5 separate regions of the Homo sapiens genome follow, and all the other regions are linked to region 3. The links come from fine-mapping of genetic effects on gene expression. A gene starts in region 3. Each other region holds a variant in brackets. All regions are shown on one strand. Distances are from middle to middle.

Region 1 (6,146 bases), 280 kb after region 3:
TAGGACGAGAGGAGGGGGACGTCCACCTCACCTGCCCACCTGCTGCCTCCCATCCTCCTCAGCAGGGTGGAGCCCCGAGGGGGAGGACAGACTCCGGCTCTGAGTGACCGGGGGGCTCCTGGCATGCTGCCACAGCGGGAGCTTCTTCTCTGTGGCTACAGTGCTGGTTACCTCCAGGCCCTTGCTGAAGACACTAGTATGGTCTGGCTGGCAGGAGTCCCTGGGGCCACTGTCGGGCTGAGGTATCTCGAAACTTTGCGTTTTCTTTATCATTTTCTTCTGGGGATGTTTCCTGGGGCGGCTGGCCAGGGTCTGGGTGGGCTCAGAGGAACAGGCAGAGCTGTCCTCCAGGTGGGCCGTGGTGGCCCCTGCCCCTGGAAGGCCCCTGAGGAGGGACAGTGGGTCCCACAGAGCACACAGCCCTGGGCGCAGGGTCTCCCCGTCCTGTCCACACAGAAGCGCTCGTCCAGGGAGGCCGGACAGTGGTTGCGCAGGTTCCCAGGCACCACCCCCACTGTCCGTGCTGGGGAATGAGGGTGGCTTCTGGTGCCTCCTCATGGCCTCCTGGGCACGCTCATGCTTTGGGGGGCTCTGGGCAAGGGGCGGTAAGCTGGGGTCTGGGGCAGCCTCAGAAAGGGCCTCTTCCAGACGGAGCCGGGTCTGGGGGTACTGCAGCCACAGGTCTTGCTGTGATGCCCACGGTTTCCCCAGGGCATGAGGCTTCAGCACTGCCACACCTGCCCCGGGGAAGGCCTCTGCAGCCACCGAGGTAGCCTCCTGGTGACAGCTCCTCAAACACTCAGCCACGGGTGAGGAGGGACAAGCCTCCGGGTCCAGGGGCCCCATCCAGCTGCTCACCTGTGGGACAAGGAGGGCTCTGCTCAGTGCAGTGGAGGAGGGGCTGCCCTGGAGCCAGCTCAGGCCCTGCTGTTCCCCAGGTCAGCCTATTCAGGGACCAGGGGGCCAGAAAGCAGAGCGAGAGGCAGTCCCGCCACCCAGTGGGGGCTGTGGCCGGGTTCAGCGGAAGGGCAGGTGGGCTGTGTCTGACCCCATGGGGTCTGTTCGCCATGCCAGAGGGCACCGTGGGGGATGTCCTAGGACCACGTGAAGACATTGTGTAGATCAGTTATGCCACATCCTGTGAGCTGAGAGAGGCGTGACGGGGCAGACGGCTCTACCCTGCTCTGGCCACCCCATGACCCCTCAAATGCTGTCCTGACAGGTGAGCTCCGTGGCCTCTGGCCCGGGCTCCTAATGGCAGGCAGTCCCCGGCGCGGGGGAGCTCGCAGGCGTGCGGTCTGGGGCGCGTGGGAGCTCGCAGGCGAGCAGTCTGCTGTAGCACTTGTTTAGGGTTTTGGGCAATCAGTGGAATTTTCTAACTGAGCCAGTAAACACACAGAGAAATGTGTGTGTTCGTTTGGCTGGTCTGTTTGGTACAATATCAAATGCTTCACAGGTCGGCTCAGAGCCTTCTCCAGAGAGCCGTGGGCGCAGTGGCCAGGGGGGCTCCATCGCAGGTGCCCGGCCTCTGTCCCACAGCCTGGCCCACTCCAGCTTGTGAGGGGAGGCACTTGCTAGATGTCCACAGCCTAAGGAGCCGGGATCCCTGGGACGCACGCCCACTGGGTCTCTTACCGTCTCGCACAACTCGGACGAGCGGGTCCACCTGGCCAGCTCTCCCTCCCTGCACTCAGCCTGGCTGACCACGGCGCTCAGGCCCCTTCTGAAATCCTGGACCATTTCCTCTGTACGTTGCGGGTTCTCCTTCGCCAGCTGTAGTCCTTTCTGGCAGGATTGCTGTACCCAAGGAACAAAGCATCAGTACAAGCCCGGTGCTTCCACGTTCATGTCTCCAGGTGTGGGCTGGGTCTGCGTGTAGCCACTGGCACCAAGGCTCGGACGGCCCACAGTGCTGCCTGCTGCTGCCTCTCATTCTCGAGAGCAGGCACCAAAGGACCGAGGCATTTCTCTAGTTCTTTTCCAAACTATGATTTGATCTACACAGGGGAAGAACATTTTATATTTAAACATGCGAAGAAGTCACACTCTAGGATTTAGCAGGACCGAGGGAGGGATGCGTCTTGGTCATGTCCTGAGTACACGCTGCACAGGGCTGACAGCCTGGCTGCGTAACCACCCGTGAATGAACACGACTGATGAGAGGTGGCACGGGCCTCTGAGGCTCAAGCTCCAAACTATTTTCATTGTTTGGAAAAGGACATTAAAATCATTGAACAATAGATCCAGGACTTTCCATTTTGAAACTGGTTAATATGGTAAGCATATTCCAGAAATATTCTTCAGGCCAGTGGCTGCTTGGCCCCTTGAGGCTGCCTGGGAAAGATGGGGGAGCCCCTGGCTGAGCCCTGCTGGACGGAGCGCCTGTGGCTACGCGCCCTGGTGACAAGACCAAGGTTCTTATTTTGGAGGCATTTACTGCTGGATTCAGTGGAAATGTCAGAGGTAAGCCCTTCATGTTGTCGTTAAACAGCAACACCAGGGGCGACTAGGGGTCAGATGCCCAGAGATGAGAGGCCTGTTGTGAAGAAGAGAACAGCTGCCTGGATCCATGACCATCAGAAGGTACCGAATGACCCCAGACATGCAGCAGAGGAGAGACAGACCAGCACATACGCTGTCTGTAAACAGAGCCAGAGTCAAGAAGAAAATCACAGCATCTTGATTCTTAGGAGCACGGGCAGAGTCTTGCAACTGCCAGGCAAGGGGCAGGTGCGGCTTCGGCAGAGCAGAGTGGGGGTGGCGCAGAGCTGGAGCCTGGCCTCCAACTTTGTGGAAAAATCGGCTGTCATTGGTTTCAAGATTTAAATACAAAAATTCAAGTCATAAAGGTTCTATGATGAAATACACTAATAATTCTATAACTTAAGGTAGAAAGGGCTGTTTAAAAGATAAGCAAAGCTAGAGGGCAAATGACAAACTAGGAAAACAAGCAGAACATGAAGGATCCATATAACATAGACAGAAGTGATGATCAACCCTAGAAAAACTGTCTAAAGCATGAACAAGTAATTCACTACAGAAATAAAAATAATAAACGTGTGAAGAGAATGTCCAGCTGTCGCATAGAAAATCTGAGGGCACACTGTTTAGGGGCTCCATTTCCCCACGGGGCAGCCGGCGGGAGGCAGGTGCGGCTGGAGTGCCACGGCTTATGCGTGGAAACCTCCAAAAACAAATGGTCTGACCGCAGCCATCCGAGCCTAGGAATGTATCCAGAGTCAACACCCACAGGCTGTGAAGGAAGCAGAGACACAGAGATGTTCAACATGGGGAGTTTCTAACAGCAGAGAGGGGAGGAGCCCAGGGCCTTCAGTGTGGGAGCCGTGTGAACATGGCTCGGGGACTGAGCTTGCAGCGCATGCCCACACACAGGGTGCCGAGGCCGCCACATGCGGCATCCCGTGTGTAAAAATCTATTTGTTTCTAATTTTCCCACAGTGTGCATGCACTTTTTAGGTTAAATATATAGAGACAGACGTGCACCTATACATAGCAGGATCGCCTGTCCGGTCACAACGTGGAGTTTCTGGGTGAAGACTGCAGAGTGAGACGTGTCCTCTTGAGACACCACTAAAGCCCTGCAAGCATCTTCCAAGGCGTAACACTCAGCACGGTGGGCAGAGAGCAGCCAGGGCACAAACCTGGAGGCCGGGAAGGAAGCGGGAGTGGCAGGGCCTGAGGAGAGCAGAGGCCAAGTCCCGAGACTCCACAGGACAGGGTGAGGGAGTGTCGGAGGGAAGGAGCTGGGCACCCTGCTCCACAGGGCCCAGGGTCTGTTCCCTGGCAGGTGAACACTGAGCTACGGCCAGGCTCTCCTTTCAGGCCGGGATTAGAGGAAAAGAATCAGACCGCCAGGGAGAAAATGCTAAAGATGCGTGGGCCACAGGCTTCCTAGCCAGGGGTCGCCAGGAAAGCCTCTGGCGCCAGAACAAACCCACAGAAGCCACAGACTGTGCAGACTCAT[C/T]ATGATTAGTATGGAGAGGGGACTGTTCAGAAAATAAGCCCATGGAGTTAAAAAGCAAGAGCAGAAACAAAAAACTCAATAATAGAGTTAGAGGGTAAAGCTGAGAAAAATCTACCTTACAAGGACAGCACACAGCCAGGGGTGGGGAAAATTAAGGCAACAGGACAGAAAACTCCAGAACCAGATGGAAGTGTGGAGCTGTGGGAAATGCGAGCGCCACGAAGGATGTCACAGAATTCCCAGAACAGAGGGGCGCAGTGCAGACACAAAGAGCACACCTGCCCTCGGTGCACCTGGGCGACCCTCAGGCACACCTGCCCTCAGTGCACCTGGGCGACCCTCAGGCACACCTGCCCTCAGTGCACCTGGGCGACCCTCAGGCACACCTGGGCCACCCTCAGGCACACCTGCTCTCAGTGCACCTGGGTGACCCTCGGGCACACCTGCCCTCAGCGCACCTGGGCAACCCTCAGATTCCAGAGCCCCGAGGACGACAGGAAAGTCTGTGGCTTCCACCGAGAAGCAGGGCACAGGCAGAAGGCTGGGAGTGGGATGGAAGCTAAGCACAGGCGCAGGGCCTTCCAGCTGGCGAAGGGAAACTAAAGTGACTGCTGGCCATGAAGGTGGAGTAGAGATGCTTTTAGATACCACGGCCTCAAAAATGCTCACCCCAAGATCCCTTTCTCTGGGAAGTCCTGGAAGTTATTCTGCATAAAACGCCAAAGTAAATGAAAAAAGAGGAAGACTTGGATACAGGAAATAGGAGACCACAGGATGGGGCAGAGTGGGGAGGGAGATGGAGGAGACCCCAGGAAGAGCAGAGGGAGGAGGGGAGATGGGGGAGACACCCCAGGAAGGAGTAGAACGAGGAAGGGAAGACGAAGGAGACCCCCCAGGACAGGCAGAGGGAGGAAGGGGAGATGGGGGAGATCCCCCAGGATGGGCAGAGGGAGGAGGGGAGATGGGGGAGACCCCCCCAAGGACGGAGTAGAACGAGGAGGGGAAGATGAAGGAGACTCCCAGGACGGGCAGAGGGAGGAGGGGGAGATGGGGGAGACCCCCTGGGATGGGCAGAGGGAGGAGGGGAGATAGGGGAGACCCCCAGAATAGGCAGTGGGAGGAGAGATGGGGGAGACTCCCAGGACGGGCAGAGGGAGGAGAGGAGAAGGAGGAGACCCCCAGGATGGGCAGAGAGAGGAGAGGAGATGGAGGAGACCCCCAGGATGGGCAGAGGGAGGACAGGAGATGGAGGAGACCCCCAGGATGGGCAGAGGGAGGAGAGGAGATGGAGGAGACCCCCAGGATGGGCAGAGGGAGGAGAGGAGATGGAGGAGACCCCCAGGATGGGCAGGGGGAGGAGGGGAAGATGGGGGAGACCCCCAGGATGGGCAGGGGGAGGAGGGGAGATGGAGCCAGGATAGAGCAGAGGGAGGAGGGGAGATGGAGGAGACCCCCAGGACAGAGGGCACAGACTGGAGACAGCCCGGACTGGCTGGTGGCTGCAGCTTGGCCTGGACTCCACTTGCCTGGTGTGGGGTTCCTGTTCCTGCCCCAGGGATTGGACCAGCTGGGCCCCTGGCCAATATTTGGGAGCTGGGGTCAGTCGTGGGGAGGCCAGGAGCATGCACAGTGCCTCGCGTCCCTGCTGCACGTCTTTGTCTGGAGGCCCCCGTGAGGGCACGCGCATGGACCTGAAGGCCGGGGGAGCTTTGCCAGCAGACAGGAGGGCTGGGGATGCCTCCACCCCACTGCTGCCTCTCCATGCTGCTGGCTCTTTCACCCGCACATTCATCGCAGCAATAGTTGTTGATAAAATAATAAGGATTTATATAAAAATGTGCAAGTTTTGAAGAGTTTATATGTGAGAAAAGAAAGAAACTTTTTATCTGAGTGTGCACCCCTTAAACTGTCAGGCCCAGAGGGGCATCAAAATGAGGCAGCAGCATCATCTGCACCCCTGAGCTAAGCAATCATTTCGCTGGTGCCCCCCGAGCTAAGCAATCATTTCAGAGCCACTGCTATATGGACCCCAGATTCTGCAGTGTGTCCACCAAGGGCCATCAATAACCCCAGCCACGCCACACACTGTGCACAACTCACACCCTGTAGTCCAGCAGCGTGTGGCCAACCCCCACCAATGCCATTTCTGTGACCCAGAGAA
Region 2 (6,146 bases), 150 kb after region 3:
ATTTTCCTAGCCATTAAAGAACATAAGTCGATTTTCTTTTTTCATTTCCCTATTGCTATGTGACAAAAGGTCATATTCTATACTTTTTGTATTAAAGGACTTCAAATTACTGATACTTTGGATGACTTCTAAAGTCTTTGCCATATTCTGAATGAAGAATGTGAGCCCCAGGTTAAAAAGATCAACAATTAAATCACAGGGTGTGTGTTCACCAGGAGGCCTGGTGTCATTTTCTTGTGGGCCGTTTGCGATTGGCTGAGAGGGAAGATCTCGTGCTGTGTTCTCACCACGGGCACAGGTGCAAGGAAGCCCCCAGCAAGTGTGGAATTCCTCGATTGCTTTGATTTGGTGATGGTTTCATGGGTGTTTGCTCAGGTCAAGTCTCACCAAAGTGCACACATGAAATGTGTGCAGCTCTTTGTGTAGCAATTATACCTCAAAAAAGCTGAAACACTTTTACACTTGAAATAATCGAAGTGACATTTTAATCTAAAGGTATACAAATCTATCGCCTACATGGCTGATTTTTCCATGAGAGTCTCATTTACAAGAGAAACACAATTATGAAATCCGTACCCTTTACTTTTTAAGGGTAACGGAAGAAGCATAAGTTTCTGCTAGGACAGCGCTTACGCTCTCCCCCATGTTTATTCCGTGGTTAACCACATGGTAGATCCACAGTGATTCAGGAAGATGAATTATCTGCAACACGCAGAAGTTCAGTCCTCTGGCATGTACGAATCCTGGTGTGGTTTTTGCACAACATTCTGCCTGGGATGCGTGGGGAGAAGCTGTGATAACAGGATCGGGATTCATTCATGCTTCATTCATCTGGGAGGCCTGCGACTGCCCGGCACAGTGTGGGCTGAGCCTCCAGCGCCGAGCACCAGACACTCCACCCTCCTGAGGCACTTGTGCGGATGCAGGTGAGATGCCCAGACCAGCACGGTGTGCGTGGGGGGTCGGGCACCAGAGAACTTGAGATGAGATTCAACTGTGTGGATGGGTCTGGTGGAGGTGGTGGCTCCCGGGCTGGGGAGGCATAAAGACGAATCCCGGTGACCCTTGCCCTGAAAAGCTGCTATGTACATTTAGTAGAAGACTGTCGATGAAAACAGACTCTCAGAAGCAAAGAGGGGCCTCGACGGGCCCCCCCACCCATGTGCAATGCCAGTCTTACTCTCTCCACCCTCGAAGGGAGCGTCCTCCTCACCTTTCTGGTCCACCTTCCCTTGCCTTGCCTGCAATTATCCACTGAATTCCTGCAGCCCCAAACAGTCTTTTTGATGTGGACTACTTTGAGCTCGACATAAATCAATTAATTAGCAGCGTGTGTTTTTGCTGCTTCATCCACTCACACACTATCTGAGACCCATTCATGTCTCTGGGGGTCCCTCACTCGCCTTGCACTGGCTGACTCCACTGAGGGACTTGCTGGGATGTCCTCATCCACCTGCAGTGAACGAGCATTTGGATCTCTTCCCACTTAGGTCTGTGCAAACAGTGACACCAGGTGCATCTGAAATATGCCACGTGCCCAGGTGCACGTGGGGCGTGAACAGCTCCCTGACCCCTCTGTGGCGAGAGAGCAGAGGCCCAGGGTGAAGTGGGGAGGTGTGGGTGTGGGGCCAGGCTGGGGTGGGGGAGAGGACACTGGATTCTGGGCCTTATCTGAGGGTCGAGCAGCAGGTGTCGTGGCCGATCAGATCTGGTGTTGAACTGGCCTGATTGTCCCAGAGAATTGATGTTCATGGTTTCTCTGAATAACATAGAAATGGATCCTTTTGGTCTTAAAACTTGAGAAAGTGACATTTGTCTTATTTGAGTTCCTTTCTTAGGAAACTGACCATCAGGCCTCCCAGGTAGTGTGAAGGAAGAGAGACTCACCAGATCACGCCATCTGGACAGTAAGACGCCAAACCCCTCACCCATCATGAGTGCCTGACCAGCCACCTGCCTCCTCCTGACCAACTCCTCTTCCTCACTCTCCCTAATTCCTGTTTTCCTTACACACAGTCACACTTCTTCCCTGCTATATAGTCAGTCAGGAAGATGGATTTGAAGCTGACCTCCCATCTCCTGGCCTGTAGCTTCTGATGCATGCCTTCTTCATTGGCAGTAACTATCGTCTTAGTGATTGGCTTTCTGTGTGGAGAGCAGCGGGATCTGGAACAAACCCCTGCATTCCGGGAACAGGGAGAGCAGCCTCAGCAGGCCCCGGGCCCTGAGTGCGGTCATGACCACCAGGGACCACCCACCGAAGGTGAATGTGGACAAGAAAAAAAAGGCTCCTGAGGACCCAGCCAGAATTCCTGCAACATCACGGAGAATCATGGCCACCCGGCCCATGCCCCCTTGAAGGGCAGCTGCAAGATTCATCTCATTTGTCTTTCTTTCCTGGACATCTTCAAATTTCCTTCACCACAACCTTGTGATCCTGAGATTCCATCAATATGTGCATTGTTTTACTATATTGCTTTAATTTACTCTGCCGGTTATCTGGAGAAATGCAACCTCATCAGCAGAAATTATTTCCACCCTGCCGCTTTTTAAATGTTATTTCCTATAGCCAGGTACTGAGCCCTTCAATGGAGGTCTAAACCCTCCACTCTCTCCCTCTGGGATTGCCAAGCCTGTGGTTTCAGTTCCATGCTCCCAGGTAGATGATGTCAACTCAAAGTCCAATACGCTTATGAAATACTTTTTGTGGTTTTTTTA[TTTTAA/A]GAGTTTTTTTTAATATGTTTTTGTTTCATGGAGGTGACACCCTCTGTCTTTGACTTGTGGCAGCCTTCCTCCTTCAGTCTGCGTGTACTGAAGCTAGTGTTTGCTGTACAGCCCCTCAGCCGCAGCAGCCCACAGTGAGGTGCAGGTGCTCACGCCACCGCCCCAGAGAGCTCCTCCATTCGCCCCTCCACCCGTAGCCCCTCGAAACCACTGCCCTGCTCCCCAACACGGTAGCACTGTCTTCTCCAAGATGTCACGTGGCGGCATCCCTCGGCCTGTGCGCACCGAAACTAGCTTCCTTCACTGGGCATGTGGCCTGGGAGACCTGGGGCATTTGGGTGCATCCTTCCACTGCTGGTTGGTGCCCCCTGTGTGGAAGCATCCGCGTTGGTTCCCGCCTCCTCCTGCCGATGGACATTTTGTTTTCTTCCAGTTATTGGCAATGAGGAATGAGGCCTAAACACTTGTGTGCAGGTTTGTGCATGCACGTTTAAGTTTTCTCTTGGGGGACGTTTCAGGAGCGGGGTTGCTGGATGACAGGGTAAGGATGTGCTTAACTTCGTAAGAAACTCCCGGACCACTTTCCAGCATGGCGGGACCCCTCCCATTCCCACTGCAGCTTATGAGGGTCCCAGTTCCTCTGCATCATCACTAGAACCTGGGTCGGCCTGTGGTTTTTGTCTGTTTTTAGCCATTTTAATAGATTTGCAGAGGTACTGTTGACTGGCATTTCTCCAGCATCTCTACGACGTTGAGCCTCTTTCTCGGGCAATATGCCCTCCTTATACCTTCTTTGATGAGGCCTCTGTTCCAATATCTGCCCTCTCTTTAATACTGGGGCTTTTACTTTCTTATGGTTAAGTTTTGATGGTTCTTCACATATCCTGCGTGCCAGTACGTTGTGAGACGTGTGATTCACAAATGTTTATTTCTAGACCATGGTTTGTGTTTCATTCTCTTTAGATTTTTATATTGCTTTATAGCATTATAATTTTAAATTTATGACAATTTAATTTGTCAATCTTTTATGAATCATGCTTTTGGTGTCATGTCTAAGAACTTTTCGCCCAACCCCAGGCCATACAAATTTTCCTGTGTTTTTATCTAAGGGTTTTATAGCGTTATGTTCTCCATTTAGGCCTGTGATAAATGTTGAGTAACATTTTGTGTCAGCCATGGCCATACCTTTCTCCGTCTCTGACAGTATCGCGGGCGTTTGCAGCTCCCAGTGCCTCGTGCTGTTCCCGTCTTCTTGATCTGCTCTTCCTGTCATACCTTTCTCCGTCTCTGACAGTATCGCGGGCGTTTGCAGCTCCCAGTGCCTCGTGCTGTTCCCGTCTTCTTGATCTGCTCTTCCTGTCATACCTTTCTCCGTCTCTGACAGTATCGCGGGCGTTTGCAGCTCCCAGTGCCTCGTGCTGTTCCCGTCTTCTTGATCTGCTCTTCCTGTCATACCTTTCTCCGTCTCTGACAGTATCGCGGGCGTTTGCAGCTCCCAGTGCCTCGTGCTGTTCCCGTCTTCTTGATCTGCTCTTCCTGTCATACCTTTCTCCGTCTCTGACAGTATCGCGGGCGTTTGCAGCTCCCAGTGCCTCGTGCTGTTCCCGTCTTCTTGATCTGCTCTTCCTGTCATACCTTTCTCCGTCTCTGACAGTATCGCGGGCGTTTGCAGCTCCCAGTGCCTCGTGCTGTTCCCGTCTTCTTGATCTGCTCTTCCTGTCATACCTTTCTCCATCTCTGACAGTATCGCGGGCGTTTGCAGCTCCCAGTGCCTCGTGCTGTTCCCGTCTTCTTGATCTGCTCTTCCTGTCATACCTTTCTCCATCTCTGACATTATCGCAGGCGTTTGCAGCTCCCAGTGCCTCGTGCTGTTCCCGTCTTCTTGATCTGCTCTTCCTGTCATACCTTTCTCCATCTCTGACAGTATCGTGGGTGTTTGCAGCTCCCAGTGCCCTGTGCTGTTCCCGTCTTCTTGATCAGGTCTTCCTGTGAGTTTCAGGGCATGTCTTAGTGCTGGCGCTGTCCTGGTCCATCAGGGGGTCCTGTGGGCTTGTCCATATGGGAAAGTCGGGACTGTGATGTTGACGGGATGCCCTGTGAGTCAGGGGGAGGTGCTGATGGGGGTTTCCATGTAGGAGAGAGAGGTGTTTGGTTTTCCGGATGGTGCAGACTTGAGAGGGGACAAACTTGAGAAATGCCACCAATGAGAAGCCCAGGCAGAGCAGGTCTTGGGGCCGCCCAGCTGTGTGGGAGCCAAACGTGGATGTGTCAGTGGCCACGCCAGGAGGTAAACCCTCAACCAAGGGCCTCTAGGTGTCCAAGGCCAAGTCTTGTTCAAGAGGTGCGTTCAGCTGAGCCAACCATGGCAGAAATGCATAAGGGAGATCCCATGGTTCCTCTGTTTAAATCCTCTGCTAATCCCCACCCGACTCAGAGACGGAGCCAAGTCCTCACAGCAGCCTGCCACCCCTGCCTGACTCGGCCTCCTCTCGGCTCTGTTCTCCATACCCTTCTATCCCTCTCTGTCTCTTCTCCCACCAGAGAGGAGATCCTGCACATTTATCCTGGTGGATTCAAACCCATCTTTGCCATACAGATAGTCACCGGAATGAACAGGTATAAAGAGTCCTTTTGAAAAAGAAAAAGGCAGGCCAGGCATGGTGGCTCATGCCTGTAATCCCAGCACTTTGGGAGGCTGAGGTGGGAGAATCACCTGAGGTCAGGAGTTTCAGACCAGTCTGGACAACATGGTGAAACCCCATCTCTAGTAAAAATACAAAAATTAGCCAGGGGTGGTGGCGGGCGCCTGTAATCCCAGCTACTTGGGAGGCTGAGGCAGGAGAATCACTTGAACCCAGAAGGTGGAGGTTGCAGTGAGCTGAGATCACACCACTGCATTCCAGCCTGGGCAACAGAGTGAGACTCTGTCTCAAAAACATAACAATAGGAATAATAAAAGAAAAGTGCAAAAATTCAAACAACTTAACAGAAACTGGGGAAAAGAGCTGAACTGGCCCTCCACAGAAGAGGAAATGTGGAGGAATGGCTAATGAAAACATGAAGAGGGGCTCAGCCTAACAGTGGGAGATATCACGTGACACCCACCAGATGGGCAAAAATCCCACCACCAACAACCCAATCCATGCCAGTGTTGGGGAGAATGGAGAGAAGCAGGAACACCACGCCCTGCTAAGAACGGTTGTGAAGTCTATTTTTGTTATGCTTGTATATGAAAGAGTATGTTGTGGGTTATGAGGAAAGTTACATTTCTTACCTGGGATGAAATTTTAAAACTTGAAAGCTACTGACCAGAAGCAACTTGCACTTGTGTACAAAAGAAACGCCCAAGAACGTTCCCAACAAAACACAGTCCTCAGGGCCCCAACCTGGCCAAACACTCATCCACAGGAAGATGGAAGACA
Region 3 (6,146 bases):
CCTGCCTCGGCCTCCCCGAGGTGCTGGGATTACAGGCATGAGTCACCGCACCCGGCCTCAGGGTGTTTAAAAGCTTGTTCCTTTGGTGTTTTCACCATTCCCACTGTCTTCTAAGCAAAGCTACTGAGTGGTAATACACTGCTGAAAGTAACTGCTCAAGAAAGTCCAGCTCTGCCTCCTTGCACATTACCATAAAGGCTAGTTTAGCAAAATCATCATGGTGATGTCAAGCAAGAACCTGAAGCCCAAGACAGATCCTGGGAGTGGGGCAGGTGGCCTCACCTTCAATCTGGCCTCCACGGAGGCCTTCTTCCGCGCTTCTCTCCTGCGATACTGCTCCACCTTGTCCAGCTGGTCCGGGCGCTGGAGCATCCCAGCAACCCTTTGCACTGCTGTCGCAACGGCCTCCCGGTCTGTCTCCTTCATGGTGAAAAAGCTGGTGGAATCCTCACACTGTTCATGCTAGGGGTGTTCTCTGTGCACTGCAGGAGTTGTTAGGACGGTAGAAATGTTAGGTACAAAACCTCCCCCAAACTATCAGGTGATCACAGTGGAGCTACAAGCAGAGCCTCTGAGATCATTAATCCAGGAAACCTCAAAGAAAGCTGAACTAGGATGAGGAACTCCTTGATAAGATAAACAAACCTTCGTAACACAAACATGCAGAAGTTATACCTTTAAGGGGAGAGCAGGGGCGTTTCACAGGCATGAGAGACATGGACATTGCGAAGATTCTAGATGTGGGTCCCAGACCACCCAGCATGTAGATGTCAGCCTCAAAGGCACATCTCTCCCCAAGACAGGGCTGGTTTCTCATTTCGGGAGCTTTCCCCCAGCACCTTGGCCAGGCCTGTGGGCAGCTGCACCAGGACCCTCAGTGAAGACAAATACAGCGTGGACAACTCCCCCGACCAGGTACCACAGCTGGAGGCCCAGCACAAGCCCCACAATTCCCACCCTATAAAAGTGACAATAGTCAGCCAGGCCCGGTGGCTCACGCCTGTAATCCCAGCACTTTGGCAGGCCGAGGCGGGTGGATCACGAGGTCAGGAGATCGAGACCATCCTGGCTAACATGGTGAAACCCTGTATCTACTAAAAATACACACAAAAAAATTAGCTGGGCATGTTGGTGGGTGCCTGTAGTCCCAGCTACTCGGGAGGCTGAGGCAGGAGACTGGCGTGAACCCCGGAGGCGGAGCTTGCAGTCAGCCGAGATCGCGCCACTGCACTCCAGCCTGGGCGACAGAGCGAGACTCCGTCTCAAAAAAAAAAAAAAGAAAAAAAAAGAAAAAGTCATTATTGTCTTGGGTATCCAAAACCCCATTTCCCCCTTTTTTAACTGTCCTAGAAAACATCATGCTTCCCTCCTTTATGCAGGCCCCGTGCAGACCACAGGTGCTCAGATGCCAGGCAAGCCTGCCTTCCATGCTCCCTCCACCATCGTCCTCCTCGGGGAGCTAACACAGCTGCTTGGTGAGCATCAGTCAATGAGGGAATCCGATACACCTGTTCCCCTTGACTTCAGCTGTCTGATTTTCATCTTCATGAATATTAAAAAGATTCACCTTCTCCTGGAATTTTTCATTCTCCATGCCCACATGCTTTCAGACACCTCTCTTCTCCTTTTTCATCTGGACCTACATTGCAACCTTTCCTTTCTCTTTATTTTCTGATTATGAAATTTGGCATACCAACGTAGAAAATCTGGACAGGACAAAAATACAAAGATGCCAGAGGCAACTCCCCTTAAATCCCATCATCTATGGGCAACTCCTCTTAAATCTTGCTACCCAGGGGCAACTTCCCTTAAATCTCACAATCCAGGGACAACTTCCCGTAAATCCCACCACTCAGGGGTAACCCCCGCTATATCCCACCACTCAGGGGCAACTCCCCTTAAATCCCGCCACCCAGGGACAACTCCCCTTAAATCCCGACACTCAGGGGCAACTCCCTCCAACAGGGCTTGTTTCCTTCCAGTTTTTTCCCTTTGAGTTTCTTTTAAAGCTAAGATTCCACTGCTTATATGACTTTGTAGGTGCACACTTTTGTTTTCTTATTTTGTTTGGACATTATCATCAGCATTTCCATTGACATTAAAGCCTGTATGATTTTGATTATAGGGCTGGATAATAACCCAAGAAGTGGACCCCCAGCCGCTCTGCTGGGGCACGCGGTGAGGTGGCTGCGCCCATCTTAAGGCTGGAGTGAAGTCTGTCACGCTGTGGGTGGAAGCCAAGGCAATGTGAGTGGAGAGCTGTGAAGCAGGGCTCGCCTTGGAGTCAGAATAAAGCTACTCATGTGGAAAAGGGGAAAATCTGGAGTTAAAAAACGCACCGCAGAGGCTTCCATCCCAGCCTGAAGACTAAAGATTTTGGGTCACAGAAGCCAAAGAGGAACTCAGAGACCATAAACAGAGACCCAGGTCCAGCCCCTACCAGGGCCTTTCTGACTGCCTTCCCCTGGCGCTGGCTCCGCTGTGAGCCTCTCCGCCGAGCGGGGGGACACCCTACTGCGGGGAACATCAGCACCCACGGAGACACCTGCGCCAGGGAGACACCTCTGCCGGGCAGACACCTCTGCCAGGAGGGACCCTTTACCGGGGGGACGCCTGCGCCGAGGGGAACACCTGTGCTGGGAGGCACCTCACGGAGGGGACACTCCGCTGGAGGACACCTGCACCTTGGAGGACACCTGCACCTTGAAAGCTTCCTAAAGGCCAGGAAGGACGCTTGTGCCCAGAAGGACACCTGCTCCGACGAGGGACACCTGGTCCGAGGGGGGACACCTGTGCCAGGAAGGACAACTGCGCCTGGGGGGGGACACCGTCAAGAGGACACCTGCACCAGGAAGTACACTTGTGCCTGGGAGGGACACCTGTGCTTGAGGGGACACTTGCACCTTGGAGAACTCCTGCGCCGAGGGGACACCTGCGCCAGGAAGGACACTTGTGCCTGGAGGGACATCTGCCCCAAGGAGGGACACCTGCTCCGAGGGGGGACACCTGTGCCAGGAAGGACACCAGCGCCTGGGGCGTGGGGGAAGACACTGTTAAGGGGACACCTGCACCAGGAAGGACCTTGTGCCTGTGGGGACACATGTGCCAAGGGGACACCTACGCCTGGGGGGGACACATGTGCCGGGGAGGACACCTGCGCCGAGGACACTCGCACGAGCGGGATACTCCACGGGGTCCGGAACGGCCTCCCCGCCCTCCAGGTCCCGGTCCGGCCTCCCCCTACGCGCCCCCGCGGAAGCCAGAGACAGGGAGAGCAAGGATGAAAGACGGCGACCACCTCCCAAGGACCCGCCGGCCGTCAGGACCTGCCACCGACTCACCCTCTACGGCTACGCCGCCGCCGCCGCCGCCGCCGCCGCCGCCGCCGCCGCCGCCGCCGCCCCCGCCGCCCCCTCCGCCTTCGCTGCCTCCGCCTCCGGGGTCCCGGCCGGAAGTGGACAGCGCGCGGGCACTTCCGCTTCCGGCAACGGCGCCGGAAGCACGGGTCCGGGCCCTCCCGCGGGGCGGGTACTCGTCTCCCGGCCGAGCGACTTCAGCTCGGGGACCTGCCCCATGGCCGCTCCCCAGCAGGACAGGGAAACCGCCGAGGTGGGGGGCTTCTTGTCCGTCCCAGCCCCCCCAACTCAGGCCCTCTCGCTGCCCCTGGCGACCACCGCGTGCGCCCTTCCCCAGGGCGGGCGCAGTCCTGGACGCCTCCGCCGAGCGTGACTGCGTGCATTTTCTCTCCTTTCCCTTCCCAACCTGCGGAGAGAAGACAGCCCCAGAGCCGCTGTCTCCATCCTCTGCTGATGCCTGCTGTCTTTATGTTGGCCTCGTCGTCCGCACTGCAGTGTGGCAGGGGCGTCCCTCGTTTCCCGCGGACTGAGGTGGGCGCCGGGCATTCAGTAAACGAAGAAACCAAAGCGGAGAAGGTTGGGAATCAAACGTCTGTCATACCTGCCACCAGCAGACAAGCGGCTTTGGGTACCTCCTGGACCCAAAGACGAACTCAGCCCCTCCAGGAGCGCAGTCATTGGCACCCTCGTGGGAACAATGCCAGTGGGATGGGTGGCCACCGGATGTTTCCGGGGCCCCTCAGAGGCCCAGCAGCGCAGGTCTTGGAGAATGAATGTGGGTCACTGGGCCGCGCTGCAGAGGGCCGGTCCTGAGTCGCTTCCTGGAGGAGAGGCCCATGGCCAGCACTTGGCTTCGCCTGGAGGAAGAAGCACGTGCTAAACCACGAGCGTTCAGGGTTTGTCTGTTTGATAAAAGATGCTGGCTTTGACACACCAACTGACAAAGTCTTTCATAGGTTGGAGCTGCTAGGTTGTGCCCCTGCCCCTCCTGAAAATTAGCCACACGAAAGGAAGGGTCTGGAAGGTGGCAGGGAAGCCAGCAGAGACCAGGGAAGTGGCAGCAGCATGGGGCAGGGGCACACAGGAAGGAGATGGAGCTTGCGGGAGCCCCCACTGCCACTCCGACAGGGAGCCCTGCCCCGTGCCCTGCTGATGTTGACACTGACCCCGGCTCTATTATTTCAGTTTTTCCTTGTAATTTCTGAAAATCTAGCAACAAGTTGAGCAATGAAAAAAAGTAAAAAAGTTAAAATTGTGTTAGAAATTATGACTGTAAAGAAATTTTGAAACTAATGAAGAAAAAATTGCCAAAATTGCCAAAGCTTTTAGGACTCTTAAAAATATAGTAACATTGAGTATTATGAACTAAAGACTCATACTATTATATCAGTGTCTGGTAGTGAATTTGGATGGAGGACTGTCTAGTAACTTCTTAACAAAACATTGATTAGAAGTCTTTCTTGGCGGGGCGCCGTGGCTCACGCCTGTAATCCCAGCACTTTGGGAGGCGAGGCAGGTAGATCATGAGGTCAGGAGATCGAGACCATCCTGGCTAACATGGTGAAACCCCGTCTCTACTAAAAAAAATACAAAAAAACTAGGCAGGTGTGGTGGTGGGCCCCTGGAGTCCCAGCTACTCGGGAGGCTGAGGCAGGAGAATGGCGTGAACCCGGGAGGCGGAGCTTGCAGTGAGCCAAGATCGCGCCACTGTACTCCAGCCTGGGCAACAGAGCGAGGCTCCGTCTCAAAAAAAAAAAAAAAAAAAAAAAAAAAAAAAAGGTATTTATTGGCTGGGCGCAGTGGCTCCTAACTGTAATCCCAGCACTTTGGGAGGCTGAGATGGGCAGACCCCTTGAGCCCAGGAGTTTGAGACCAGCCTGGGCAACATGGTCTTTTTGGTAGGAACCCCATCTCTACCAAAAAAAACCCCACAAAAATTAGCCAGGCATGGTGGTGCATGCCTGTAATCTCAGCTCCCTGGGAGGCTGAGGCAGGAGAATGGCTTCAACCCGGGAGGAGGAGGTTGCAGTGAACTGAGATGGCACCACTACACTCCAGCCTGGGTGACAGAGGGAGAATCTGTCTCAAAAAAAAAAGTTTCTTGACTTCTGTTTTTGGCAGACCATGTTCTGCGAACACCCAGGAGCACTGCTGAGTGCAAGCATCATGTCGATTGCACAAGTGGATTCACGAACAGGCAAGGACGTGACCAGGGACAAATGTGGGAAGGGGAGAGGACGTGAATCAGAAGCAGAGATGCTTGCCGTCCTACAGCAGGCAGGTGGGTGGGTAGGGTGCGAGTTCTGCGGCCCAGGGGTTGGGTTTTACACTGAAGCAGGACAGATGATGAAGCTAAGGCTCCCAGCAGGTGGGAGGTGGACGGCGACTCCCATGTGAAGCACAGATGTGCAAGGGATGCATCCTCAGTGAAAGCGTGGACTAGGAAAACAGCAACAGCCTGGAGACTGTTCCTAAACTCAGCCCTCGGCGGAAGCCAACCCAGGGTCATTGCTAGAGGGATCCTCCTCCACCTTGACAGGAGCAAACTCGAGGGGGAGGGAGGGGAGGGCACTGAAGCACCCACAGTCCTGACCCTGCTCTGGGAGAATAGAGACCGTGCTTAGCTCCTGCTTAGACCTTGTTAAATGCCCACATTAAGGTTAGCCACTACAGAAATAGAAACAGGAAGAGAGAAAATGCAGGCAACAGCACAGAGACTGCAGGCAAGGAGAAGATGAGGACCCTGTGTTGAAATGTATCAGTAATGAGAACACAAGTAAGTGGATTAGA
Region 4 (6,146 bases), 33 kb before region 3:
GGCCAGGCGCCCCACCCAGCCCCGAGGCCACTGCCGCCCTGGCTCCCGCACCTGCCCACTATGGCAGGTGGGCCTCAGCCTCCCCGGCCTGCCCTGACCTCCCCAGGGGCGCCCTGGCTGCAGGAAGTGTGCAAGGCAGGGCCTGGGGGCACAGCTGCAGGGATTCCGCAGCTCCTCCCTAAGGACAGAGCCCTCCCTAGCGAGCTTTGGTGCCCTCATCCAGCAGCCGGTCAGGGTGGGTGCTCTCGCCGGAGAGAAAGACCTGTCCTGCCAAACCCTGCAGACCCTCACACAGAGGGCCAGTGGGGGCCTGGAAACTCCATTCATTCAGACAGAATGATTCTGCCTCCACTGACGTGCATTCACCCCAGATGTGCCACCCGTGACTGGGGCCATGCCAAGTGGCAAGGCACCTCCTGGCAGAGGGCACGGGGGCCTGGGGCTGTCAGGAGGGCCAGCCAGTGCAGATCAGGAAGGAGGGCTCCTGGACCAGGCTCCACACAAACCCCCAAACCACAGGCCCGGCAAGCGAGAGAAAGCTCAGATACTCTGGCCCTAGGAGGCCTGGAGCCTGGCTGGAGGGTGGGAAGGGACAGTGGGGGCTCTGGCCTCTGGCGGGCTCCCCTCACCCCCACATAGGTGACAAGGTTGGCAGGCGGGCCTTGAGCCTCTCCCCCAACCACACCAGCCACCATCCTTGACCCACGACCCACGACCACAACCCTGGGCTCAGCTGCATGTGGGGAGCCTGTGGGCTCCTCCCGGCCACTCAGTAGCGGGGGTCCCCACACCTGGGGTGGCATCTGCCTGCCCAGTGTCCCTCCTGGCTCTCACCCAGGGCGGCTGCTTTCTCTCCCTGCGCCCCCCCACCCCACGGCAGGGCTCGGCAGGGGCAGGGGAAGTGGTGTGGGGAGCAGCCCCTCCGAAGACCCCACGTGCCCGGGTGCTGCACAGCCCTCGCCTGTGCCCGCCCAGAGTGGCAGTTAGCACCGTGGCTCCCCTGACCCTCACGTCTGTCTTCGTGGGGTGGCAGGAGCGGGACAAAGGTCATACAGAAGATGCTGGATTTAGAAGCAAAAGAGCAGGCGGAGGGCCCTCAGAACCAATGACCCTCAAATCCCCCCCGAGTGGGCAGTGAACTGGGGGCCGCATCTTCAGTGGGAACAGCGGCACCCACCTGACCCCGGGGGCTTCCCTGGGAGCATCCTGCACACTGAAGGCGGCACGGGTGCCCACCTGGCGAGGTCTGAGTGCAGTGAGCTGACGTTCCCTCCACACCCGTGCCCCTGCCGGCCCTGGGGACCCTGACTCCAGCCATAAGCCCACTCTGCCCTGTGCTCCTGCACAACCTCATGCTCTCCAGGCCCTGCCATCAGGCGGGTGGGGTCTGAGGACACATAGGCGGCCCCACTTCCATCCTCTGGCACTCAGCTGTGTGGCTTCTGTGCCCCATCGGGCTCTGCTCCGTTCTCTACCTGATTCAGTTCTGGACATGAGGCCAATGGAGTTTTAGGGTCTCCTGCAGGGACAGAGACCACTTCAATGATTCTGCAGTATCAACACTTTCCCCAGACACATCCCAAGTCCCAGGCAGCTTTACCCCTTCACACTCAGACCACTGTGTCCTCCCACAAGCATGACCTCTGCCCAGTTCAGGCAGCAGCCTGGCTGTGGCCTCAGACGGACAGGGGCTCAAAATCTGATCTCCTGGTTTTGGCATTTCCACCCCTCCCTCTGCAGCTGTGAGGCGTGAACCCGGGGCTCAGGTCTCAAGGCTTTCCCCGGGCCCCGAGCTCTGGGCGCTTCCCCCCAGGGCACACAATGGCAGCAGCTAGGGCTTGGCTGCTCAGGCCACTGACCGGGCTGCTTCCTGACCACAGGGAGAGCGCCGCGGGTCCCTGGCCTTCATCCGCTCCCCCAGCACCGACAACGTGGTCAACGTGGACTTCACGCCACGATCGTCCACCGTGGAGGCCTCTGTCTCCTACCTCCTGTATGTGGCCATGGTCATGCAGCTTCCCTGGGGAAGAGCCCAGCCTCGGGAGCTGAGAGTCACAGACAGGGCTGTGGTGGCTCCTGGCCTGGGGGTGGCATGGAAGAGGGGAGAGGTGCAGAAAGAGGGGGTGGGTGTCTCCTTCCACAAGCCCTCCTATATTAGGCCGTGGCCAGACTCCCTTAGTGCTGGATGGAAGGTGAAAGGGAGGGGCAGCAGCGGACTGGGGGCCAGGCCTGACGTGTTTGCCCCTGGCCCGCAGCAGCCTGTCCTGGTCCCCATGCCACCCTTACTGCTCCTCCGGCCCTGGGCTCCACAGCTCACAGCCAGTTCTCATAGGAGGTCCACTCTGCCAGATGTGCAGATGCTGGGGTCCCCGAGTCTTACAGCCAGGGCTTTGGAGAGGGACCAGTAAGGAAAGGGACCCACTTCAGACAGGAGGCCAGGAAGGCCTCGTGGGGAGTCAGCCTAAGCCCCGAGGGGAGAAGGGGCTGGCCAGATGGCAGATGTCCCCGTGCCCCAGCCGGGTGCCCACCATGGGAAGGCGAGGGGCACGCAGGAGGCAGCCAGGGCCAGATGCC[C/T]GCCGTGGGAAGGCGAGGGGCGCGCAAGAGACCCCACCCTGAGGGAGCCTGTATGGCTCAGCGCTGGTCCCCACGCAGGAGAGAAAATGTCAGCGCTGTCTGCCTGGACATGCAGTCTCTGGAGCAGCGACGGCGGAGCATCCGGGACGCGGAGGACATGGTCACGCACCACACGCTACAGCAGTACCTGTACAAGCCGCGGCAGGAGGTGGGCACTGCGGGCTGGGGGCTGGAGGACCCCGCAGGGACCCCGTGGGGCGGCTTCCTCGTCCCCTCCTGGGACCACGGGGGATCCGTGCTCAGCTCCTGCGGCAGGAGGGCGAGAATGTCCGGCGGTGGGCACAGCTGTGACCTCCGTGCCTGATCCCGCAGTACAAGCATCTGTACAGCCGACACGAGCTCACGCCCACGGAGGACGAGAAACAGGACCGGGAAATCTTCCACAGGACCATGCGGAAGCGCCTGGAGTCCTTCAAGTCGACCAAGCTGGGGCTCAACCAGAACAAGAAGGCGGCCAAGCTGTACAAGCGGGAGCGTGCCCAGAAGCGGGTAAGGCTGGGTCACCAGGAGGCTTGGCGGGGCTGGGGCCTGGAGCGGGGGCAGTCAGGGCTGGGTGTGGCTGTGTCGGGGTGTGAGCAGCTTCACGTTTGCTCCGCAGAGAAACAGCAGCATCCCCAATGGGAAGCTGCCCATGGAGAGCCCTGCGCAGAATTTCACCATCAAGGAGAAAGGTGCGCTGGGGGCCCTGCAGGAACGCTGGGACTGGGAGCCACCACCTCCCAGCCCCAGCCCTCCCGGCTCGGGAACCTCCCCTCTCAGGACCTTCCCCTCTGGGGACCCTCCAGCCACCCAGGCAGGGGAGGCATGGTCAGGGCCCCAGCTGCAGACCCACCCAGGATGGGGTTCCAGGGACACTGCCCTCTAAGTGGGGTCCCTCCTCCAGCCCTGCGGTTTAGCCCTCCTCTCTGTGGGTCCCGACTGCCTGCACCTCTGTGCACAGAGCTGATGGACACTGCTGACTGGGCTGTGAGGACAGCCCCCCAGTGACCCCAGTCCTCACCCCAACCTGTCTTCCCCAGACTTGGAACTTTCAGACACCGAGGAGCCCCCCAACTATGATGAGGAGATGAGTGGGGGGATCGAGTTCCTGGCTAGTGTCACCAAGGACACAGCGTCCGACTCCCCTGCAGGTGGGGACGGGGCACAGGCGTCGTGGCTAAGGGAGGGGTGGCTCCTGCCGCCCCAGGAGGGAGCTCGGTCATTGGACCAGGGGCACTGGGACCTGGGGGGGTGGGGTCTCCTGTGGGTTCTCAAGGGCCCTGCTTGGCACCCACTGAGTGCCCCCTCAACCAACTCGGAGGCTGCTGTCCGGGGAGACGTGGGCCGGGCAGGGAGCAGGTGGGGTATGTCTTGAGGGAAGCGAGACGTTACCTGTGCTGCCTGTGGCGTGTGGGGTCATGGATGTGGGGGAAGGGCCCGCAACCTGAAAGGCACGTGACCCTAACCTTCCCGGTGACCCTAACTTTCCAAGGCACCCAGCAGGTGACGGCCCCGGCGAGGTCTCCCCTGCCGCCGTGGGGCTCTCCGAAGGCTGACTAGCCGCTGCCCTCTCTCCTAGGAATTGACAACCCTGTGTTTTCTCCGGACGAGGCCCTGGACCGCAGCCTCCTGGCCAGGCTGCCGCCCTGGCTGTCTCCCGGGGAGACGGTGGTCCCCTCGCAGAGGGCCCGCACGCAGATTCCCTACTCTCCCGGCACCTTCTGCCGCCTGATGCCCTTCCGCCTCAGCAGCAAGTCCGTGGACTCCTTCCTGCAGGCAGACGGCCCCGAGGAGCGGCCCCCCGCCGCCCTCCCCGAGTCCACACACATGTAACGCTCCCGGGCCTCCCGCCGCCTAACCCCTCTCCGCAGCTCCTCTCCCTCCAGGTCTCCGCCTCGCGCGCGCTGTCTCTCTCCCTCCCCGCCTAACCCCTCTCCGCAGCTCCTCTCCCTCCAGGTCTCCGCCTCGCGCGCGCTGTCTCTCTCCTCCCTGGACCTGAACCTGGCTCGCTCTCTCTCTCCCCGCCTAACCCCTCTCCGCAGCTCCTCTCCCTCCAGGTCTCCGCCTCGCGCGCGCTGTCTCTCTCCTCCCTGGACCTGAACCTGGCTCTCTCCCTCCCCGCCTAACCCCTCTCCGCAGCTCCTCTCCCTCCAGGTCTCCGCCTCGCGCGCGCTGTCTCTCTCCTCCCTGGACCTGAACCTGGCTCGCTCTCTCTCTCTCCCCGCCTAACCCCTCTCCGCAGCTCCTCTCCTCCAGGTCTCCGCCTCGCGCGCGCTGTCTCTCTCCTCCCTGGACCTGAACCTGGTTCTCTCTCTCCCTCCCCGCCTAACCCCTCTCCGCAGCTCCTCTCCCTCCAGGTCTCCGCCTCGCGCGCGCTGTCTCTCTCCTCCCTGGACCTGAACCTGGCTCGCTCTCTCTCTCTCCCCGCCTAACCCCTCTCCGCAGCTCCTCTCCTCCAGGTCTCCGCCTCGCGCGCGCTGTCTCTCTCCTCCCTGGACCGGAACCTGGTTCTCTCTCTCCCTCCCCGCCTAACCCCTCTCCGCAGCTCCTCTCCCTCCAGGTCTCCGCCTCGCGCGCTCGCTCTCTCTCCTCCCTGGACCTGAACCTGGCGCGCTCTCTCTCTCCAGCAGCCCCTCTTCCTCCTCTAGCGCCCTGCTGGCCGCACCTCCCTCAGGAGCCCGGACAGAGATACTCTGGCGTCTCTGCTGCTCCCACGGAGCTGAGGGCACTAGGGCCGCCTGAGATTTCCTTTAGGTGGCTCCGAAAGCTAGTCCGCGAGTCCAAATCCTGCGCTCCCAGGGAGCTGAGAGCAGGGCTGGGGGAAGCCAGACAGACGCCCCGGGTCCCCGACCCTCTCACAGGGATACAGGGAGGGCCGGCCCCGCAGACCCGGACTCTGCCTCCAGCTCAGAGCAGGGAGAGGGGCGGGCCGTGGGGTCTGGGCTTTCTGAGCTCCCTCTGGGGGCCTGGGAGGCACCCGGGGGACGCCAGGGCGGTTTGAGATGGAGGAAGCAGGTCCCCTTGGGGACCTTGACCTCCCGCGCTGCAGGGCCTGGGGCGGGACCTTCCTGCGCCGAGGAGGCCGCTGTCCCGGGACCCCCGGCGGGGGGACGTGGCGGGGCCGGGCTGGGGCTTCGCTGTTGCTGCTTCCGCCTCTGCCCCGCGAACCCGGGTCCTGGGAGGAGGCCCCAGCGGACGCCGAGCCTGGGGTGCGCCGCGGGAGGGGAGGCGAGAGCCGCCGGGCTCGGGGACAGCTGAGGCCCCCGGGGACGCCCCTCCCGCCCCAGCGCCCGGGCTCCGCGCGCCGCTCACGCCTTCCTCTCCCGCAGGTGACACCGGCTCCGACACGCCGCTAACCGGCCGCTCGTCCCCGCGCCACGGTCCGCCCACCGCCGCCGCCGCTGTCCCAGAGAAACCCCAGATCCCCGCGCGGCTACAGCGACCGCGAGCCCCGAGCCCCGCCTCGCCCACGCCAGCGCCTGCGCAGAACTCCGAGAGTGCCGCGCCTGCGCCCGCAGAGCCGCCCGAGGGCG
Region 5 (6,146 bases), 88 kb after region 3:
GCCTCCACTCCCGGGCGCTCTTCCCCAGTCGCTGACTGCCCGGGTGGACTCCGTGACTGAGGGCCTCCACTCCCGGGCGCTCTTCCCCAGTCGCTGACTGCCCGGGTGGACTCCGTGACTGAGGGCCTCCACTCGCGGGCGCTCTTCCTCAGTCGCTGACTGCCCGGGTGGACTCCGTGACTGAGGGCCTCCACTCGCGGGCGCTCTTCCTCAGTCGCTGACTGCCCGGGTGGACTCCGTGACTGAGGGCCTCCACTTGCGGGCGCTCTTCCTCAGTCGCTGACTGCCCGGGTGGACTCCGTGACTGACGGCCTCCACTCCCGGGCGCTCTTCCTCAGTCGCTGACTGCCCGGGTGGACTCCGTGACTGAGGGCCTCCACTCGCGGGCGCTCTTCCTCAGTCGCTGACTGCCCGGGTGGACTCCGTGACTGAGGGCCTCCACTCCCGGGCGCTCTTCCCCAGTCGCTGACTGCCCGGGTGGACTCCGTGTCTGAGGGCCTCCACTCGCGGGCGCTCTTCCCCAGTCGCTGACTGCCCGGGTGGACTCCGTGACTGAGGGCCTCCACTCCCGGGCGCTCTTCCTCAGTCGCTGACTGCCCGGGTGGACTCCGTGACTGAGGGCCTCCACTCGCGGGCGCTCTTCCTCAGTCGCTGACTGCCCGGGTGGACTCCGTGACTGACGGCCTCCACTCGCGGGCGCTCTTCCTCAGTCGCTGACTGCCCGGGTGGACTCCGTGACTGAGGGCCTCCACTCGCGGGCGCTCTTCCCCAGTCGCTGACTGCCCGGGTGGACTCCGTGACTGAGGGCCTCCACTCGCGGGCGCTCTTCCTCAGTCGCTGACTGCCCGGGTGGACTCCGTGACTGAGGGCCTCCACTCCCGGGCGCTCTTCCCCAGTCGCTGACTGCCCGGGTGGACTCCGTGTCTGAGGGCCTCCACTCGCGGGCGCTCTTCCCCAGTCGCTGACTGCCCGGGTGGACTCCGTGACTGAGGGCCTCCACTCCCGGGCGCTCTTCCTCAGTCGCTGACTGCCCGGGTGGACTCCGTGACTGAGGGCCTCCACTCGCGGGCGCTCTTCCTCAGTCGCTGACTGCCCGGGTGGACTCCGTGACTGACGGCCTCCACTCGCGGGCGCTCTTCCTCAGTCGCTGACTGCCCGGGTGGACTCCGTGACTGAGGGCCTCCACTCGCGGGCGCTCTTCCCCAGTCGCTGACTGCCCGGGTGGACTCCGTGACTGAGGGCCTCCACTCGCGGGCGCTCTTCCTCAGTCGCTGACTGCCCGGGTGGACTCCGTGACTGAGGGCCTCCACTCCCGGGCGCTCTTCCCCAGTCGCTGACTGCCCGGGTGGACTCCGTGTCTGAGGGCCTCCACTCGCGGGCGCTCTTCCCCAGTCGCTGACTGCCCGGGTGGACTCCGTGACTGAGGGCCTCCACTCCCGGGCGCTCTTCCTCAGTCGCTGACTGCCCGGGTGGACTCCGTGACTGAGGGCCTCCACTCGCGGGCGCTCTTCCTCAGTCGCTGACTGCCCGGGTGGACTCCGTGACTGAGGGCCTCCACTCGCGGGCGCTCTTCCTCAGTCGCTGACTGCCCGGGTGGACTCCGTGACTGAGGGCCTCCACTCGCGGGCGCTCTTCCTCAGTCGCTGACTGCCCGGGTGGACTCCGTGACTGAGGGCCTCCACTCCCGGGCGCTCTTCCTCAGTCGCTGACTGCCCGGGTGGACTCCGTGACTGAGGGCCTCCACTCGCGGGCGCTCTTCCTCAGTCGCTGACTGCCCGGGTGGACTCCGTGACTGAGGGCCTCCACTCCCGGGCGCTCTTCCTCAGTCGCTGACTGCCCGGGTGGACTCCGTGACTGAGGGCCTCCACTCGCGGGCGCTCTTCCTCAGTCGCTGACTGCCCGGGTGGACTCCGTGACTGAGGGCCTCCACTCCCGGGCGCTCTTCCTCAGTCGCTGACTGCCCGGGTGGACTCCGTGACTGAGGGCCTCCACTCGCGGGCGCTCTTCCTCAGTCGCTGACTGCCCGGGTGGACTCCGTGACTGAGGGCCTCCACTCCCGGGCGCTCTTCCTCAGTCGCTGACTGCCCGGGTGGACTCCGTGACTGAGGGCCTCCACTCCCGGGCGCTCTTCCTCAGTCGCTGACTGCCCGGGTGGACTCCGTGACTGAGGGCCTCCACTCCCGGGCGCTCTTCCTCAGTCGCTGACTGCCCGGGTGGACTCCGTGACTGAGGGCCTCCACTCGCGGGCGCTCTTCCTCAGTCGCTGACTGCCCGGGTGGACTCCGTGTCTGAGGGCCTCCACTCGCGGGCGCTCTTCCTCAGTCGCTGACTGCCCGGGTGGACTCCGTGACTGAGGGCCTCCACTCCCGGGCGCTCTTCCTCAGTCGCTGACTGCCCGGGTGGACTCC[G/A]TGACTGAGGGCCTCCACTCGCGGGCGCTCTTCCTCAGTCGCTGACTGCAGGGGTCCTGGCAAACACAGGCACCCCCAAGGAGTTCTGGGAGGGTGGCCTGACCCACAACTGGGCTTCAGCAACAGAGCCGGGGCTTCTGGACCCTTCCTGGTCAGTGTTAGGGTCCCACGTCCCAGGCTGTGACCAGGGTTCAGCCTAGAAGGGGCCCAGCTCCCCTCCATGCCCCGCAGCAGGAGGGCAGAGAGCTCTCTCAAGGCAGCAGCAGACTGTCTCCTCCTCACCACCTCCTTCCCTCTTATTTTGTGCCTGACTTCCCCTGGTGTGAATAGTAAAATCACCAAGAGTGGAAAATCCCGACCTTAACAGTCACATTAACATTAAACATCACAAGCAAATGCTCAGGCCATCATCACCCTGGTTCATGTCCTTCCCAAAGGCAACTTTTTATGGCAGCCGTAATGAAATTAGCTTACCCATCTCTAAGTCAAGAGGCATAGTTTAAGATCTAACTTTTATAGCTTGACTTGTTTCTAATTATACGTGGAAATGACTTCAGAAAAGTTTTTAGAATTTCCTCTAAAATGTACAGCCTGAAGGGGATCACAAAATTCACAATCCTTGGTAGAAAAATCAGGAAGTTTATTCCTGAAAGCTGCAGCACTCTCGTAAGCCGGTGGCCCCTGAGAGTCACTGCAGCTGCGGCAGAGGTGGGCACCTCCCAGCAGGGCAGCAGGAGGCACGCAGGGTGCCCCTGCACAGGATGGCCATCCAGTGCCATTGCCCCGGCTTGGGGCAGGCAGCAGGATGGGAAGCTCACTCGCTGGCAGTTTAAGAAGAGCCAGGTGTCCAAACTTGCTGGAAACACCAGAATCGAAGACTTTCTGAGGCCGTCAAGCCCTGGCCTGGCTGGACACAGTGGGACCTGTGCGGAGAGGAAATGACCTGGCCTCTCCTCCAACCTCCCAGCGAGAGGGTGAGGCTGTGCGGTGTCGGTGGGAGGAAGCCGATGTGACAGGTCTTCAGCTCGGGACAAAGCCTCCCTGCCGGCTGCCCCAGCCCTTCCTGCGCTGTCCAGACACGGGGACTGCCCTCTGCCATTGGCGCTGCTGAGCCGCACTGCGCCATCCATGAAAGGCGTGTCCCAGAAGGCAAACCTGGGAGCCTGCCCTCAATTCCATGCTGGTGCCCATGCCCAGGTGCATGCAGGGTGGTGCCCACTCCACCACACCAGACCACACCAACTGCACCACATCTTAACCCTCCTGGAAAAGCTGCCATCCTGCACATACGGCAAACCCCAGGTCTCTCAGGTAAACTGAGTCCAACACCACCCAGCAGCCCTGGGCACCAGGAGGCCCAGGCTGGGAACAGAGATAAATATAAAATTAATAGTTTTCAACATAAAATTAGAAAACCTGGAATGTAAAACTAAAACTTGCTGTGACCTCACCACTCAGATAAGCTCTGTTAACATTTTGTGGGATTTGATTTCCATGGAGGCTGCGGCCAGCCGGGACCCGGGGAAGACCCTCAGTGTGGGGCCGGCACTGGCAGGACACGGCGCGTGATGCTGGGCATCACCGTGACTTTCCTTCCCGCAGCCCATGGGCCACGTCCTTCCCTGGGGGTGTCTGAGGGTGCGCAGAGGTCTGCAGGGGCCCAGGCACTGACAGCCTCTTGCACCCTGAGACAGACGCCCCCCGCCCAGGGGAGGCCCCCACCCTGACTCAAACTCAGGAGTGCAGGCACCGGGCACAACTGCCACATGCTGCTGGTCACGGGGTTTTTAATTCTAAAAGTGCTGCAATCAAACCACGTGCAGGCACGTCACCCAACACAGAAGCTGAAAGCAGCTTCTCTCCCACCCTCCCGCAACAGCAAAGGCCCCACGGTCTACACCTGCGAGTTCTCTGGAGCGATCCCAGCTCCCAGGGCAGCAATAACCTGAAATCTAAGGAAACGCCATGCTTCCAAGGACAGACAGGGCACAGGCCTGGGGAGGCCCCACCTGAGATGCAGGAGCCCCAGAAGCCCCTCCCCACGAGAGGGCAGCCCCAGCAGCTGTGTCCGGGCACGGCCTGGCGTGGGCAGGGGGAGGCGCCCGGCACCCCAGGGCAGCCCCCGGGTCCCACCTAGTCAGCTGCCTCAGCCTCCTGACCATGCCCAGCCCTGCTCATCCACAAAGCCGATCCCTCATTCCCTGGAGCCGGGGTCTGTGGGGAAGCCCCAGTGAGGCCCAGCACGGGGAGGAACAGCCCCAGCCCCTCCCTCAGCAGCTGCGCAGCTTCAGCAAACCCAGGACCCCAGGCGCAAACTGGCCCATCCCAGCAAACTGAGGTGAGGCCCCCACCCTGAGAGTGTCGAGGACAGCTAGGGCCAGACCTGGCCCCAGGGAAAATCCACAGCCCAGCCAGCTCCCATCCAGGGGCCAAGTCTCCAGGTTCTGGGGGCAGCGTGGGGGAAGAAGGGAGTGCACATGGTGCAACCCACCAGACACACTTCACCTGGCCACAAGGCCCCAGATGGACTCAGGGGAGACACAGCCTGACTCAAGTGAACAGGTGGGAGCAGGTGAGAGTCCTACCTTGGAAGAAGCTCTTCACCCGGAGGTAACTGACACTGAGGCGCAGGACAGAAAGCTTGTCCAGCTTGGAGATGATGTCAGGCGGGAACGGCAGCAGGCTGGCCAGGTGGTCCAACTCGGCGTTGAGGCGGTCCCGGTGTCGCTTGGAGGGGTTGGACTTCTCTGCCCCCACGGCGGGCCTCCTGTGGGGAGATGGTCTGGGTCAGGTGGGCTTCTCCACCAGAAGCCACAGGCCCCCTGGGGCGGAAACCGTCCTCTGCAGTGACCTTACTAGGAGCATCTACGCTGCTGCCAGGACAAAAGACGGGAAGAGGACTAAAGCTCACCCATGCCTCAAGACATAGACACTAAAAACCACAGCGCACAACAGCCAAGCACAGCTCAGTATCTGGAGGGGATGTAGAGAGAAGAAGCAAACCAGCCGGAGAACCGCAGCTCAGAGCACGGAGACAGGGCACGGCCCCCAGCTGCGGGACAGGCACATTTCTCCACCTCTCCACTACGGATCCCTGAGGAGGGAGGAGGACGCCTGGCCCCAGGCTGGCGGGGCAGGAGTGAGCATAGAAAATGCCACATTCATTCAGCATCCTTAGGGGACTCCTCGGTGTCTAAACAAAACCTAACACATTCCAGGAAACATGAAAAGGTCCTCCTGGCATCAGCCGGGCCGTGCCCAAGGCCGCTCCGAGCTTGGTTTCTCCTGTACATGCTGGGGCTGAGGGGAGAGTACCCAGGGCAAATGAGACCAGGTGCCTGCCACTCTGGGGCCCCACAAAGGGGCAGTGAGGGCCATCACCCAATTCTCCTAATAAGCCAGAGCAGGCCTGCTCTACCCACAAAAAGGGGCCACCTGTGGGGCTTCCACACCACAGAGCCCAGAGAGGGAGGGAGCTGACCCCTCTCACCCAACCTACCTTAAAATGACAGGAGCTTGGCGTGACCCTCTCACCTCAGAGTGACCATCCCCTACAGCTGACCCATTTAACCTCAGAGTGACCGTCCCCTACGGCTGACCCATTTAACCTCACAGTGACCATCCCCTACAGCTGACCCATTTAACCTCACAGTGACCGTCCCCTACGGCTGACCCATTTAACCTCAGAGTGACCATCCCCTACGGCTGACCCATTTAACCTCACAGTGACCATCCCCT

Direction of the effects. Alleles are on the strand shown, and positions count from the first base shown. SD is a standard deviation of normalised expression in the study named. Not every link is listed here.
For the expression in fibroblasts of the gene that starts at base 3,456 in region 3, T is the low allele of the variant in region 1 and C is the other (moderate effect, 0.68 SD a copy in GTEx).

Evidence for each region.
Region 1: its variant is fine-mapped to the expression of EXOC3 in fibroblasts (GTEx, PIP above 0.99).
Region 2: its variant is fine-mapped to the expression of EXOC3 in whole blood (TOPMed, PIP 0.98).
Region 4: its variant is fine-mapped to the expression of EXOC3 in whole blood (TOPMed, PIP above 0.99).
Region 5: its variant is fine-mapped to the expression of EXOC3 in whole blood (INTERVAL, PIP 0.97).

What each region holds. Positions count from the first base shown.
Region 1 is chr5:157,434-163,579 of GRCh38, reverse strand. It overlaps PLEKHG4B (pleckstrin homology and RhoGEF domain containing G4B), which reads right to left. Exons shown (of 20, transcript NM_052909.5): 12 at 1,636-1,797; 13 at 32-858. Among named protein-coding and RNA genes, the nearest start is that of LRRC14B, 31 kb to the left of the region's middle. RefSeq lists enhancers at 2,908-3,408, 3,409-3,909. The variant C/T (reference allele first, on the strand shown) is at 3,986.
Region 2 is chr5:291,786-297,931 of GRCh38, reverse strand. The region is part of intron 2 of PDCD6 (programmed cell death 6); the gene reads right to left. The region is part of intron 2 of PDCD6-AHRR (PDCD6-AHRR readthrough (NMD candidate)); the gene reads right to left. Among named protein-coding and RNA genes, the nearest start is that of PDCD6-AHRR, 23 kb to the right of the region's middle. RefSeq lists enhancers at 396-924, 925-1,453 and a silencer at 2,755-2,925. The variant TTTTAA/A (reference allele first, on the strand shown) is at 2,719.
Region 3 is chr5:440,486-446,631 of GRCh38, reverse strand. EXOC3 (exocyst complex component 3) reads right to left here and starts at 3,456. Exons shown (of 13, transcript NM_007277.5): 1 at 3,342-3,456; 2 at 283-482. The coding sequence starts at 426. EXOC3-AS1 (EXOC3 antisense RNA 1) reads left to right here and starts at 3,472. Exons shown (of 1, transcript NR_126522.1): 1 at 3,472-4,797. RefSeq lists enhancers at 2,792-2,881, 2,932-3,061, 3,832-3,941, 3,962-4,011, 5,595-5,654 and 2 more and a silencer at 3,362-3,751.
Region 4 is chr5:473,179-479,324 of GRCh38, reverse strand. SLC9A3 (solute carrier family 9 member A3) reads left to right here. Exons shown (of 17, transcript NM_004174.4): 11 at 1,881-1,993; 12 at 2,653-2,782; 13 at 2,947-3,123; 14 at 3,233-3,305; 15 at 3,654-3,764; 16 at 4,193-4,442; 17 at 5,943-6,146. The coding sequence ends at 5,946. SLC9A3-AS1 (SLC9A3 antisense RNA 1) reads right to left here and starts at 6,089. Exons shown (of 7, transcript NR_125375.1): 1 at 5,926-6,089; 2 at 4,006-4,188; 3 at 2,762-3,093; 4 at 1,989-2,081; 5 at 1,476-1,519. RefSeq lists enhancers at 992-1,161, 3,557-4,197, 6,125-6,146 and a silencer at 5,382-6,146. The variant C/T (reference allele first, on the strand shown) is at 2,575.
Region 5 is chr5:352,759-358,904 of GRCh38, reverse strand. It overlaps AHRR (aryl hydrocarbon receptor repressor), which reads right to left. Exons shown (of 11, transcript NM_001377236.1): 3 at 4,994-5,175. PDCD6-AHRR (PDCD6-AHRR readthrough (NMD candidate)) reads right to left here. Exons shown (of 13, transcript NR_165163.2): 5 at 4,994-5,175. Among named protein-coding and RNA genes, the nearest start is that of AHRR, 34 kb to the right of the region's middle. The variant G/A (reference allele first, on the strand shown) is at 2,409.